Homo sapiens: one gene and its partner. The protein of the gene in region 1 interacts with the protein of each later gene in a biochemical or structural test. Each region holds a gene or a part of one and is shown on either strand. Other genes may lie near its edges.

Region 1 (7,668 bases):
GGAGGTGGGGGCAGCCAGAAGGGGCTGCACTCGGGATTGTTCTTAAGACGCTGACTCTAGAAAGGAAGAGACCATGGGGCCTGGGGAGTCTACCTGGAGGTGAAGGTGGGTGGCCGGGGAGTGGCCATCTCCTGGATCCAAGTCCGGTTGGGCCATCAGCATCGGGCTCCCTGTGCCCCTCGCATCTCCAAGTCGGCCTCATTCGTGTGTCAGATACTCAGTCGTGTCTCCTCGGTGCTAGGCCCTGAGCTGAGGCTAGGAACTGGGGACTCCGAGGTGGGCTGAACCTCACAGGTCCCACTGTCCCTGGGAAATGGTCCAGCCTTCCTATGGGGCAAGGACACCCCTACTCTTCTTCCTCCCCCACACCTGTAGCTTCCTGAGGTCATGTGGATGTGGGCGCCCCTGCCCTGGCATCTCAACCTGGGCAGTGTTCCTGCCAAGCCCTGGGCTCTAGGTGTGACAAAGCTGTCTTCGTTTTCTGTCTCTCCATGAAACCTGGGGCTCCTTGAGGACAGGGACAAGATCTGATTTTTTTTTGTTTTTTTTTTTTGTTTTTTTGTGGGGGATGGAGTCTCGCTCTGTTGCCCAGGCTAGAGTGCAGTGGCACAATTTCGGCTCACTGCCAGCTCCGCCTCCAGGGTTCACGCCATTCTCCTGCCTCAGCCTCCTGAGTAGCTGGGACCACAGGCGCCCGCCACCACACCCGGCTAATTTTTTGTATTTTTAGTAGAGACGGGGTTTCACCACGTTAGCCAGGATGGTCTCGATCTCCTGACCTCATGATCCACCCACCTCGGCCTCCCAAAGTGCTGGGATTACAGGCATGAGCCACCGCGCCGGGCCGATCTTATTTTTTTGTGTCCACAGCATGGATTTCCCTGGTGATCCACCTGCCCCTGCCCTGGGAGCAGGTGCTCCCACCCCACCAGGCTCTCTCCCTCCTGGCTGAGGTGAGGTCTCTGGGCTCATGGAGCCAGGCCTTAGAGCCAACCTGGGCTGCTGGGTAGAGAGGATCTGCTTCAGCCAGCTCTTTCTGCAGTGATGACGAGGACGAGGAGGAGGAGGAGGAAGGAGAAGAGGAAGAAGAGGAAGCAGAAGAAGAGGAGGAGGAAGATGAGGAAGAGGAGGAAGAAGAGGAGGAGGAGGAGGAAGAAGAGCCTCAGCAGCGAGGGCAGGGAGAGAAGTCAGCCACGCCCTCACGGAAGATTCTGGACCCTAACACTGGGGTGAGTTTCTATCATCTGCCACAATCAGAGCCCTGGTCCTGAGAACGTGAAATCCCGAGGCACTTTCACAATGGGGTAGGGGGTGTCTCCTTAAGCACAGTAGCCACAAACATTTTTTTTTGATTGCATGATATTGAGTAAAAAAAGGAAAATGGTCCCAGTGTAATGATAGTTACCTATATTTCTTTTTTTTTTTTTTGAGATGGAGTCTCACTCTTGTCACCCAGGCTGGAGTGCAGTGGTGTGATCTCGGCTCACTGCAACCTCTGCCTCCCGGGTTCAAGTGATTCTTATGCCTCAGCCTCCCAAACAGCTGGGATTACAGATGCTTGCCACCACGCCTGGCTAATTTTTGTATCTTTAGTAGAGCCGGGGTTTCGCCATATTGGCCAGGCTGGTCTTGAACTTCTGACCTCAGGTGATCCACCCTCCTCGACCTCCCAAAGTGCTGGGATTACAGGCATTGAGCCACCGGGCCCAGCCATAGTTACCTATATTTCTATTTACCCCAATATAAATGTCTATTTACAGGTAGCAGTGCTGCTGCATTATGTATATTATAAGATATGCATAAGGGTTTCTGAAAGAATAAACAAATAAGCATAAATAGAAATTCTGATTTTTTTTTTCCCCACCCACCAGAGGATTGTCTTGGTGACCCTTAGGAACCACTCCCCCATTCCTGGGATGGTGGCTGGGCCATGACCTGGCTTGGGCACTTGGTGTCCCTTGTCTGGCCCGGGGCTGCATCAGGGCTGCCACACCTCCAGTTCATTCATTTGCATTCCCTGTCAGGTTCCTAAGTAAAGCTCCTGGAGAACTTGGCTCTGGACAAGGACTCCCCATGCTTACGCTGAATTGGGCTGCTTCTCTGGTTTATGGAATCAATTAAACAAATGGCTAGGTTCGCCTCAATTCAGTTTTTCCTCTGGGCACCTCTGGTGCTAGCAGGGCTTACCCAGGCTGGACTGTAGTTCTACGGGGACCCACTTTAGCCCCCATGTGCCTCCGTAGTCATTTCTGGGGCACTGCATGTCATGACGAGGATCCACTTGGCCGTAGCAGGTTTTTTGAGTCCCAGGGAGGTAGCTTCCCCCTCACCCCAAAGGCTCCTGGACCAAGAGCCATCCAGGGCCAGCATCTCTGGGTGATATTGATAGATGGGAAATGCAGCTGAGTGGGAGGAAGAATTCTAGACTTTGAGCCTAGATGGGCTGGAGTGAAGGGTGGATGTGCTGGGTGTGGGGATGGGCACAGCTGTGTCGGGGAGTCTGGGGTCCGGAATTCTCCAGAGCCTCTGTGCCCCTACTTCCCAGGAGCCAGCTCCCGTGCTGTCCTCCCCACCTCCTGCAGACGTCTCCACCTTCCTGGCTTTTCCCTCTCCAGAGAAGCTGCTGCGCCTAGGGCCCAAGAGCTCCGTGCTGATAGCCCAGCAGGTAATAACCACCCCTCGACCCCCACGCTGTACGTGCTGTGGCTTCTGGAGCTGTTAGAGAAAAGGGACGAACAGCTCAGAGACCTGGGGGTGCGACGCTGTCAGCTGGGGGCAGGGAGGCTTGGCCTGCCACTGTTACAACACGCGCAAATGTCCAGGGTATTTATAAGCCTCCAGGGGTTGCAAATGTTCCCTCCCCACTCAGCCTACAGAAAGTACAGCCCGCCAGTTCCCATGCTGACTGGGGTTAGGGAATTTCCTTAAGAGCCTTGCATGTGCCCACCCCCTCCTTGGCTTCTCTCTGCGTGTTCCGTCAGCCCAGCTGCTTCGAGAACAACTCTGTTGCCCAGGGCTCCTTTGGAAGTGACGTGCCTATTGCAGGATGGGTGCCCTCACTCCAGCCTCACTTGTTGGTTGGCTCATTCATTCATTCATAGATGATCTTCGGGGCATCCATTTTCTGCCAGGCACTGCATTTGGGCATGATTTTATTTAACCCTCTTGGCAACATGAAATGTAGACTCTGCTGCCCTTACTTTATTTTATTATTTATTTATTTATTTATTTTTTTGAGATGGAGTCTCACTCTGTCGCCCAGGCTGGAGTGCAGTGGCACGATCTCGGCTCACTGCAGACTCTGCCTCCTGGGTTCAAGCAATTCTCCTGCCTCAGCCTCCCGCGCCCAGCTAATTTTTGTATTTTTTAGTAGAGACGAGGTTTCACCACGTTGGCCAGGCTGGTCTCAAACTCCTGACCTCATGATCCACCCACCTCGGCCTCCCAAAGTGCTAGGGTTACAGGCATGAGCCACCGTGCCCGGCCAGCCCTTATTTTGTAGATAAGAAAGCGGAGGCTCGGAGGTTACAGAGAAATAAAATGGGCCCACTCTCAGAGTTGGCTTAACATTTCGGCCAATTGCTTTGTTAGGTTTTGCCTGTATTCTTTGTTTCTTTTAACATGATAAATCAGATGTTGTAAGCCTTTCTGTGGCCTATCACTTTGGTGTAGCACCATTCATCACTTTCTTGTGCCCATAAAACTCTTCTCAGGATTTTTATTGCAATGTGTGGATGTAGCACTTAAAAGCCAGGCACTGTTTCTGACGTTTTTTCCACTTTTCCCTGTTGTGAGGTTGAGGTAAACGTTTCTGCATGTGAGTATTGTCTACATGCTAGATTATTTCTTCAAGTTCAATTACAAGATGGGGACCACTGGATCCCTGAAATGATTTTTTTTTTTTTTTTTCTGAGACAATGTTTTGCTTTGTGACTCCGGCTGGAGTGCAGTGGTGCAATCATGGCTCAGTGCAACCTCGACCTCCTGGGCTCAAGCAGTCCTCCTGCCTCAGCCTCCCAAGTAGCTGAGACTATAGGCACACACCACCAACCTTGGCTAATTTTTTTCCTTTTTGTTGACATGGGGTCTTGCTATGTTGCCTAGGCTGGTCTCAGACTTTTCGCCTCAAGCCATCCTCCCACCTCAGCCTCCCAAAGTGCTGGGGTTACAGGCATGAGCCGCCACACCCGGCTGGGATGATTTTTCATCCTTGTTCATTCACTCATTCATTCCCTCTCTATGCTGCATATGTGCTTGCTGCAGGCCAAATCCAAGCCAGACTCTGAAGGGACAGCATGGGGTAAGGCAGGACCTGTTCTTGCCCGCCAGGGGCCTTTGTACTGCCCAGGCCTCTCCTAGCTAGCGTCAGAGCCCAGGTACCTCTCCACCACGTGCCACAGGCCAACCATTGTCTCTTTTGTCCTCAGACTGACACGTCTGACCCCGAGAAGGTGGTCTCTGCCTTCCTAAAGGTGTCATCTGTGTTCAAGGACGAAGCTACTGTGAGGATGGCAGTGCAGGATGCAGTAGGTAATGTGGGCTGGGTGAGACCTGGGTGCCCTCTGTCCCTTGATGCTCGTGGGCCCCAGGTATCCTTCGTGGTTGCCGTAACTCGTCAGCCCCAGCGCTCTCATGGGAACTGCTCTTTGGCCACCTGAGTTTTTCCTCCGTCAGGGTCCTGCCGTGGAGCCAGCTGGCTGCTCTTCTCCCTGTTTTTCACCACTGAGAAACTGAGGCCTTTCCCAAATCCACACAGCCATGTACAGTTAGAACCCATAGCCCGCTCTAGGAAGTCCAGATAGTCACATCTGCAAGCCCAATGGACGCAGGTCTATCGGGAGGAGGGATGGTGAGAGCCAAGCCCTTGTCCACACCTTGGAGCTTCTGTGCTCACGTCCACTCTACCTGGAGGTTCCTTGCACAGAGGACACCTTTCCCCATAACATTATGGGGGCTTCCTTGGAGCACCAGCCCATATCCCTCCAGCCCTATCACAACCCTCTCCCCACCCTGTCTGTTTCCTCCATTCCAGCACCTGTCACCTTCCACCCTGTTTCCATGTGCTTGACTGAGCCTCCACATCTAACGAAACCTGAGCCAGTTCCGGTTAGGCAGAGGGGAGGAAGGGCCCTGAGGCGAGGGGGACGGTTCCTGGAAAAGATAGAAAGGGGTGGAAGGACATGTGGTGCCTCTTCCCGGCGTGGCGTCGAAGCGGGGAGGGCGGCTCAGTGGGAAATGAGGCTCGGAAGGAGGTGGGGGCCAGACACAAGCCTGCTCCCTGAGGGCCCGCCTGTGGGCATTTTTGGGAACAAGTTGCCCTAGTTCTGTTTCCCAGGAAGCCTAGCACAGTCCCTGCACATCCCCTCACCCTGCCAAAATAACCTGAATCCTCCCCAGTGGTAGCCTGCCTCAGGAAATCTCCATTCCCACGGTGTGAGGTGGGCACAGTGGGTGTCATCCCCATGCCCATTTTATACCTGAGGCCAGGATGGGCAAGGGCCAGAGTGTCACAGCTGGCAGATGGACTGAGCCCATCCCCTGATGCCAACTGCCACTCCCTCTGGTTCCTGTGTCTCTGCCGTCCCTCTCGTGTTCGCCTCTTCGTCAGGGCGAGGAGGCAGGCGAGCCTGTGTCTGCGCGGTGTTGGGGGAACCCTGGGTGCCTTGGCCCAGCCCTCTGCCATAGCCAGCAGCCTGCCCCTGCTGCTTCTGCCCTACAGATGCCCTGATGCAGAAGGCTTTCAACTCCTCGTCCTTCAACTCCAACACCTTCCTCACCAGGCTGCTCGTGCACATGGGTCTGCTCAAGGTGAGGCCGGAAGGAACAGCAGGCCCGGGAGGGAGGTGGGTGGGGTCTGCACAGAAGCTGCCCCAGCCATGCCCGCCAACCTCCCTCACCTCGAGTCCTGAGCCGGCTCGCCCACGGGGCCCCGAGGCCTGGGTCTGCCCCAGCAGCCTTGGTCTTCACGATGAGATTCCGGCTAGACTCAGTTGTGGGCACTATCAGCAGAGTCTGGATGGTGGAGTCCAGGGGCCCCCCCAGGTGACTTTGAAGCTCACCCCGCTTTTCGCTGTGTTCCTCTCAGAGTGAAGACAAGGTCAAGGCCATTGCCAACCTGTACGGCCCCCTGATGGCGCTGAACCACATGGTGCAGCAGGACTATTTCCCCAAGGCCCTTGCACCCCTGCTGCTGGCGTTCGTGACCAAGTGAGTGTGGCCTTGTCCTTCTGCCGGTGCCTGCCCTCTCGGGCTTCTCTGGCCAGGTCTGAAGGCGCCCGGTTCCGGGAGGCCCAGCCCCAGCCCAGCCAGCCTGCTGGCCCCACTCAGGTGCATGAGAGGCCCTCATGCCTCCTGGGCTCTCAGCATCTGCATTGGAGTCTCACCACCCTTGGGAGGCCCACTCCCCTCTGCCCAGCTGAGGACAGTGGGGCTCAGGGACAGTGAGAGAGGAGACATGCGGCGCCCCCATTGTGCAGATGAGGAGCACTGGGTTGGTTAAGGAGTTTCCCTTGGTCACACGCTAGCAAGAGGCTGGGCCAGTGTCCAGACCCATGTCTGCTGAGCGAGGTGCTGCGGTTGGTGACATCTCCGGAGTGGCTTTTTGTCCACATTCACAGCAGCGCAGGCCAAAGGGGCCTGGTCACACCAGGCTCTGCAGCCCCGGGCCCTCTCCTGGGGACACACATTGCCACGGGAGCTGCCAAATGCCCAGCAATGTGTGAACCTTGGCCTTGTTCTGGAGGGTCCTGGGGTGTCCCGGGGCATTGATGGGGTGATGGGCACAGTCAAGTAAGAGAGGCAAGGCCCCACCAGGGAGGGGTCGGGAGGCTTGCCCTCTGAAGGCCCTGTGTGGCCCCTGGCCAACCTGTGGCCTTCATCAGGCCTCAGTCTCCCCATTTGTCCAACCGGGGGGTTAGGTGAGATTGTCTCCAAGCGCCCTGACCAGCCACACTTCCAGTCAGTCGGCGCCATCCGGGGACATGGGGCAGGCAGAGGAGCAAGGAAGTCCCTTTGCTGGGGGAGCCCAGAGCCCACCAGCTGAGGCAGGATACTTGGTGCATGTGGGGAGGCGGGGCTGGCGGAGCGTGAGCGGCCCCCGCTGGCCTCCAGCACCCAGCTGGTGCCGCGGCAGCCCTGTCCACTCCAGTGTCTGCATGGCGCCGCCTCCTTAGCCAGGCCTTACCTTCTGGCCGCATTTCCCCCACACCAGACCACCCCTTGGGCTGCAGCTGGACTGGCCTTGGTGAATGGCAGATCTCACTGTTCCCCTCCTCTGCCAGGTGCTAGGTAGAGCCTCACTGTGAATCTCATGGCTGGCCACAGCCTCACCCCGACCCCACCCCACCCCACCCCAGCACAGTGTGCTCTCCCTGAGCCCCTTTCCATAGCAGTGCTGTTGCTGCAGTGCCGAGCTTTGCCCATGCTGTCCAGAGCTTGTTTGGCCAGTGGCCCCAGCCCCCGTCTGCGCCTGAGCCCTTTGTGTCCTTCCTGCCCCCTGGTCAGAGTAGTTCCCTCTGTATCCCTGGCAGCCCCTGTGCTATCCTAAGCCTGGGCATGTGCCTCTTGCCCTTGTTGGTCAGAGCAAAATGCCTTTTCCCAGCTTGTTGCCCAACCTCCAGCACAGGCCTCAGTCTGCCCCCTGGGTCTTGTCCAAGGTGACTGATTAAC
Region 2 (7,000 bases), on another chromosome or scaffold:
GAGGCTGGCCATCTGTGAACTGCCCATGCTTTCTAGAATGTCGGAGTTTTGGAGTGTGATGATGCGTCTGTATATCATATCTTTCTAGTCTTTCATTGTGCTTTCATTTGTTAGTCTTCTCTTGTTTTGCCATTTTTCTACTCCCTCACATGTGCTTTTGCCCTTAAAAATATTCTTCGTCTGTAATCTGAGCACTTTGGGAGGCCGAGAGACCAGCCTGACCAATATGGTGAAAATCCGTCTCTATTAAAAATACAAAAATGAGCCGGGCGTGGTGGCAGCGCCTGTAGTCCCACCTACTCGGTAGGCTGAGACAGGAGAATTGCTTGAACCCTGGAGGCAGAGGTTGTGGTGAGCAGAGATTGCACCACTGCACTCCAGCCTGTGTGACAGAGCGAGACTCTGTCTCCAAAAAAGAAAAAAAGAAAAAAAAATATAATTCTTTCTCTAGTTTTTCTTTTTCCAGATGGCTTCTGTTTAGTTTTTCTATGTTCTGTCAAGTTGATTTCTTATTCTGCAGCTGATTCCTACTTCTCAAAGTCTACTTGACAGCTCTTATTTTTATTTATTTGTTTTTTAGAATAGGGTCTTGCTGTGTTGCCCAGGCTGCCATCAAATTTTTGGGCGTAAATGATCCACCTACCTCTGTTTCCTGAGTACTTAGGACTACAGGCAGGCACCTTTGACAGCTGTTAGTTGTTTTTTCTGCCCTTTACAGCTATACTTCATACTTCTGAGTAACACACATATATACTTTTGTTATTTTTAATTTCCTTTCTCCCATTTTAGACATTTTCTTTTCTTTTTTTTTTTTTTGAGACGGAGACTCGCTCTATCGTCCAGGCTGGAGTGCAGTGGCGCGATCTCGGCTCACTGCAAACTCTGCCTCCCGGGTTCACACCATTCTCCTGCCCCAGCCTGTAGCTGGGACTACAGGCACCCGCCACCACACCCGGCTAATTTTTTAGTATTTTTAGTAGAGACGGGGTTTCACCGTGTTAGCCAGGATAGTCTCGATCTCCTGACCTCATGATCCGCCCGCCTCAGCCTCCCAAAGTGCCGGGGTTACAGGCGTGAGCCACCGCGCCGGGCCCCATTTTAGACATTCTGTACTGGTTATTATGCTCCTCCAAAACTGTCCTCAGACACTTTGGTTTGCCCCTCATTCTTTCAGTACTGTTATTGCAGTTTTTGTTTAAATGAATATTTAACATTTATATAAATATAAGGTAAATATTTTTGCATTTGAATTGCCCTTGTTGTGCGGTTTTGTTTTTCCTGGACTGAATAATTGCTTTATTTTTTGGTTTGCTTGTATGTTGTGTTACTACTTGCTTACTTAAACTCAGCAATTTACACCCTCAAATGTGGTCAAACTGGTCACATAATCCCATCAATTGCAGCTTAAAACATTGATTGATTGATTGATTGATTGATTGTCTGTCTACCTGGAATACCCTTACTAACTGACTTCTCCAACCAGGATTGGTTTTTCTTCCTCTTTGCTACACAGCTGTGCTCTTGGGACTTCCCTTTATCATCAGTTTGAGAATTCCTTTCATCTTTTTTCTGAGTTAGACCCTTTGTTTCTTGTATCTCATGTCCTCTTCATTTACTTTCTTTGTTTTGGTGTAGCATAGTCTCACTTGCTTTGAGGAAAAGTAGATGAGAGGTTTTTTTGTTTGTTTGTTTTTGTTTTGGGACAGAGTCTTGCTCTGTTGCCCAGGCTGGAGTGCAGTGGCATGGTCTCAGCTCACTGCAACTTCCGCCTCCCGGGTTCAAGCGATTCTCCTGCCTCAGCCTCCTGAGTAGTGGGATTACAGGTGTGTGCCACCATGCCCGGCTAATTTTTTCTATTTTTAGTAGAGATGGGATTTCACCATGTTGGTCAGGCTGGTCTTGAAACTAATGGTATGTCTTTAAAATGTCTTTACTTAATTTAGTTGATCATTTGGTTATCGAATTCTGAGTTTGAAATAATTTTTTTTTCGCAATTTTGAAAGCATTGCTCCATTTTCTAGAAGTTCTGTTGTTAGGAGTCCGATGAGATTCTTGTTCTTGGTAACTTAAAGGTTTTCTGGAAGTGTCCTTTCAATTGGGAAACTCATTTCTTTCAGTTCTGTAGCATTTCTTGTATTATTTCTTTGACCATTTCTTACCCTTTTTTTAATGACGTTTACCTGAAAGCTGGAGTTTCTCTAATTTTTCTCTTATTCTCCTCTTTTGTTTGTTCTGCCTTTTGAGAGATTTCCTTACCCTTATGTTCCAGGGGAAGAAGATTGGGGAACTCATGGTTCAGTATCTAGACTTTTCCTCATTGTCCTGTATAATCGCGGCCTTCACCCTTGTTGGGACTCCACAGATTTGGAGCTGATCAGATGGGTTTGTTGAGAACAGCTGATCAGATGGGTTTTTGGAGGATTTTAGGGGGAGGGAGATTCATTTGACTGTGCAAGATGGGCGACAGAGTGAGACTCCATCTGAATTAAAAAAAAAATTTAGAACTGCATAGTGAAAAAGTAGGCCACAAATATTAAGTTTTGGACAATTACAATTACATCTCTATCTTACTGTGCAAGATAGAGATGATGTGGCATCTCTTAGGGTCTTACTGTTCCTGTTTTCAGCCCTGCATCAGTTCTTGATATTTGGCAGCTTAAGTGAATTCAGGTATTTGCTTATAGTGACATCTGCTGTCATGTAAAGAAGTACTGCTTGCATCAGATATTGTCCTGTTTACATAACATGGGCTGTGCTCCTTCCTAGCTGTGTATCTTTAAACAAGGCATTTACCTGCTTGAGCTTCAGTTCCCTTGTAAAGTGAGCAGGTTAGAGGCAAAAGATCATATAGAAGAATAATTTGTAAAGTTGTTTAATTATCTTAAGATTGTCTACTTTAATAACATAGTTGGAAGCAAAGAAGGTAATGGAATTATTTTTCTATTATGTTTTGGCATTGTACCTTGAATCTATTTCTTCATTTTGAAAAGGGGGAACTGGCTGGGCTCAATGGCTGACGCCTGTAATCCCAGCACTTTGGGAGGTGGAGGAAGTCAGATCACAAGGTCAAGAGATCGAGACCATCTTGGCCAACATGGTGAAACCCCATCTCTACTAAAAATACAAAAATTAGCTGGGCATGGTGGCGTGCGCCTGTAGTCCCAGCTTGTACCCGGGAGGCAGAGGTTGCAGTGAGCTGAGATCGAGCCACTGCACTGCAGCCTGGCGACAGAGCAAGACTCCATCTCAAAAAAAAAAAGGAAGGGGGGAACAAGCCTTGTTCCTTTACGTGCTGTCCTGACTGCTGTGTATTATTTTTGTTAAGATTGCTGTAGTTCTTTTTTTTTTTGAGACGGAGGCTTGCTCTGTCGCCAGTGCTGGGATTGCAGGTGTTAGCCTGGCATTGAGCAACGTTTTGTAATTTAAGCATACAAGTCTCTCACCTCCTTGTTTACATTTATTCCCAGGCATTTTTTTCTTTTAGATGCGATTGTAAATGGAATTGCTTTCTTAATTTCCTTTTCTGATTGTTCGTTGCTGGTACAGTAGTCCCTTCTTATCCACAGTATTGCCTTACGTGGTTTTACTTAGCTGTGTCACCCGTGGTCCAAAAATATTGAATGGAAGATTATATAAATAAACATTTCATGAGTTTTAAATTGCAAACGGTTCTGAATAACATGGTAAAAATCTCACGGCCTCCTGCTCCGTCCTACCTAGGACACAAGTCATCCCTTTGTCCGACATATTCATGCTGTATGTGCTCGCCACCCGCTAGTTACATACTAGTCATCTCAGTTATCAGATCAGTTGTTGGAGTATTGCAGTGCTTGTGTTCAAGTAACCTTTATTTTATTTAAAATGGCACCAAAGAGCAAGAGTAGCGATGCTGGCAGTTCACATATGCAGAGAGAAGCCATATAGTGCTTCCTTTAAGTGAAGAGGTGAGTTTTTTTGTTTTTTTTTTTTTTTGGCTTAAACAACAGAAATTTATTTTCTCATGGTTCTGGAGGCTAGAAGCGGCAGATCAGGGTGCTGCTGCTTTGGTTCCTGATGAGGGCTTTCTTCCTGGCTTATAGGTTGGCTGGCATCTTGTCCTCACATGGCAGAGGGAGAGTACTGTAGTCTCACCTTGCTTTTTATTATTATTATTTTTTTAATTTATTTTTTTATTGATAATTCTTGGGTGTTTCTCACAGAGGGGGATTTGGCAGGGTCATGGGACAATAGTGGAGGGAAGGTCAGCAGATAAACAAGTGAACAAAGGTCTCTGGTTTTCCTAGGCAGAGGACCCTGCAGCCTTCCGCAGTGTTTGTGTCCCTGATTACTTGAGATTAGGGAGTGGTGATGACTCTTAACGAGCATGCTGCCTTCAAGCATCTGTTTAACAAAGCACATCTTGCACCGCCCTTAATCCATTTAACCCTGGGTGGACACAGCACATGTTTCAGAGAGCACAGGGTTGGGGGTAAGGTCACAGATCAACAAGATCCCAAGGCAGAAGAATTTTTCTTAGTGCAGAACAAAATGAAAAGTCTCCCATGTCTACTTCTTTCTACACAGACACGGCAACCATCCGATTTCTCAATCTTTTCCCCACCTTTCCCGCCTTTCTATTCCACAAAACCGCCATTGTCATCATGGCCCGTTCTCAATGAGCTGTTGAGTACACCTCCCAGACGGGGTGGTGGCCGGGCAGAGGGGCTCCTCACTTCCCAGTAGGGGCGGCCGGGCAGAGGCGCCCCTCAGAAGAGGTGAGTTTTTGACTTAGGAAAGAAAAAAGATCATATACTGGAGTTGCTAAGATCTATGGTAAGAACAAATCTTTTGTCCATGAAATTGTGAAGAAGGAAAAAGAAATTTGTGCTAGTTTTGTTGTGACACCCCAAACTGCAAAAGTTACAGCCATAGTGTGTGATAAGTGCTTAGTTGAGATGGACAAGACATTAAATTTGTGGGTGGAGGACACAAACAGGAAACATGTTTCGATTGACGGCAACCTGGTTTGATACTATTCATCGTTTTGGACATTCACTGGGGTCTTGGAATTTCAAAAATAAGATGTTTGAGTAGCTGTATACTCTTTATCACATGGATGGAACATACTCTGGTTGTATCAGCATTTTTTTTTTTTTTTTTTTTGAGATGGAATCATTCTGTTGCCCACGCTGGAGTGCAGTGGTGCGATCTTGGCCCACTGCAGCCTCTGCCTCCCGGATTCAAGCGATTCTTTGCCTCAGCCTCCCAAGCAGTGGGGATTACAGGGGTGTGCCACCATGCCCAGCTAATTTTTGTATTTTTAGTAGAAAGGAGGTTTCTGCATGTTGGCCAGGCTGGTCTCGAACTCTTGGCTTCAGGTGATCCGCCCGCCTCGGTCTCCGAAAGTGCTGGGATTACAGGTGTGAGCCACCGCACCCAGCCTGGTGTGCATCAGCATTTTGGACTTTGGAGTTTATGTAACCAAGGAGCCAGGCTGTGGACCTCGTTTATTACTTGAAGAATTCAATATTTATTTCTGCCTTTTTGACTCCTTGACTGTAAAATACTGATCTGATCTGTAGAGAGAACAGTACATGGACCAGGGAATCCTCAGTGCCTTAATAGATCCTAAGTACTTACTTATTCTTTCCCATAGAGGCTTACACATGGTAGGAAAAGAGATTTCTGGAATACCTTTCCTCCCCAAAGAAAGCTGGTTTCTTTTGTTTGTTAAGTGAGAGAGTGGTACCACAGGGTTTCCAAGATTTCCAAGGCTGATGAAAATTCTTCTGTTGTCTGCTTGTCTTACTTTCTTGAATTTATTTTTTGTATGTTATGTATTTATTATTTAGAGAGAGGATCTCCCTGTGTCACCCACGCTGGAGTGCAGTGTCACAGTCATAACTCACGGCAGTGTCAACCTCCTGGGCTCAAGTGATTCTCCTTCCTTGGCCTCCTGAGTAGCTAGGAACACAGGCATGCTCCACTATGCCTGGCTATTTTTTTCTCCCTGGAGACAGGATCTTGTTGTGTTGCACAGGCTGGTTTCAAACTCTTGGCCTCAAAGCTAGCCTCCCACCTTGGTCTCTGAAAGTGCTAGAATTAAAGGTGTGACCAACTGCACCCAGCTTATTTATGATGATGATGATGATGATGATGATGATGATGATGATGATGATGTTTGGGAGATGGAGTCTCGCTCTGTCGCCCAGGCTGGAGTGCAATGGCACGATCTCAGCTCACTGCAACCTCTGGCTCACTGCAACCTCCACCTCCTGGGTTCAACTGATTCTCGTGCCTTAGCCTCCCGAGTAGCTGGGGTTACAGGCACCCACCATCATGCCTGGCTAATTTTTGTATTTTTGTCAAGACGGGGTTTCACCATGTTAGCCAGGCTGGTCTCAAACTCCTGACCTCAGGTGATCCGCCCACTTCGGCCTCCCAAAGTGCTGGGATTACAGGCATGAGCCGCTGCACCCAGCTCTATTTTTTGTTTTGTGATAGGAAATTATAAAACATGGAATTATGCATTTGTCAGCCTTTAAAAAAACTTTTAAGTGAATGAAAGTGGCGTATTTGAACATCAACTTAGGACAGATTTTTACTACTTTTGAAAAAATGTTGGAAAATATTTCTGTATGAAAAGTAAAACAACTTTTAATTTTTTTTAGAAGTCAATGAAAGGATTCTATTTTGCAAAGCTGTATTATGAAGCTAAAGAATATGATCTTGCTAAAAAGTAAGTACAAACTGTAACATGTATTTTTTTTTTAAAATCAATGCCTTTTCTCATTTTCTTCTTTGAAATAGGTAAAAATATGTTCTTAGTAGTTCTTCCTAAGTGTATTCTGGAATAAGGGATTTATCACTCAGACTGATGCTAAGGACCAGCCTAGATTCCATTGAGATTGAAACCGTAATTAGTGTTTTCTGCATGCTGCTGCTTTATACCAAGGGCAAGAAATTGTTTGGCTTCAAATACTTTTTCTAAAAATTGTCTTCTGTTGGAGTAAAAGAGGAC

What was found. Proteins that work in one complex are often made in the same cells at the same time.
Region 2: the proteins of RANGAP1 (region 1) and RANBP2 form a complex in vitro, tested with the Homo sapiens proteins (5 studies listed by BioGRID and IntAct, with this or other methods).

The regions. Positions count from the first base shown.
Region 1 is NC_000022.11:41,247,869-41,255,536, reverse strand, and holds part of RANGAP1 (ran GTPase-activating protein 1), read left to right. Parts: intron 1-870; coding exon of another isoform or gene 871-952; exon of another isoform or gene 953-1,042; coding exon 1,043-1,229; intron 1,230-2,486; exon of another isoform or gene 2,487-2,545; coding exon 2,546-2,665; intron 2,666-4,427; coding exon 4,428-4,530; intron 4,531-5,719; coding exon 5,720-5,808; intron 5,809-6,085; coding exon 6,086-6,207; intron 6,208-7,668. UniProt on the Homo sapiens protein: GTPase activator for RAN. Converts cytoplasmic GTP-bound RAN to GDP-bound RAN, which is essential for RAN-mediated nuclear import and export. Mediates dissociation of cargo from nuclear export complexes containing XPO1, RAN and RANBP2 after nuclear export.
Region 2 is NC_000002.12:108,722,482-108,729,481, forward strand, and holds part of RANBP2 (E3 SUMO-protein ligase RanBP2), read left to right. Parts: intron 1-6,650; coding exon 6,651-6,718; intron 6,719-7,000. UniProt on the Homo sapiens protein: E3 SUMO-protein ligase which facilitates SUMO1 and SUMO2 conjugation by UBE2I. Involved in transport factor (Ran-GTP, karyopherin)-mediated protein import via the F-G repeat-containing domain which acts as a docking site for substrates.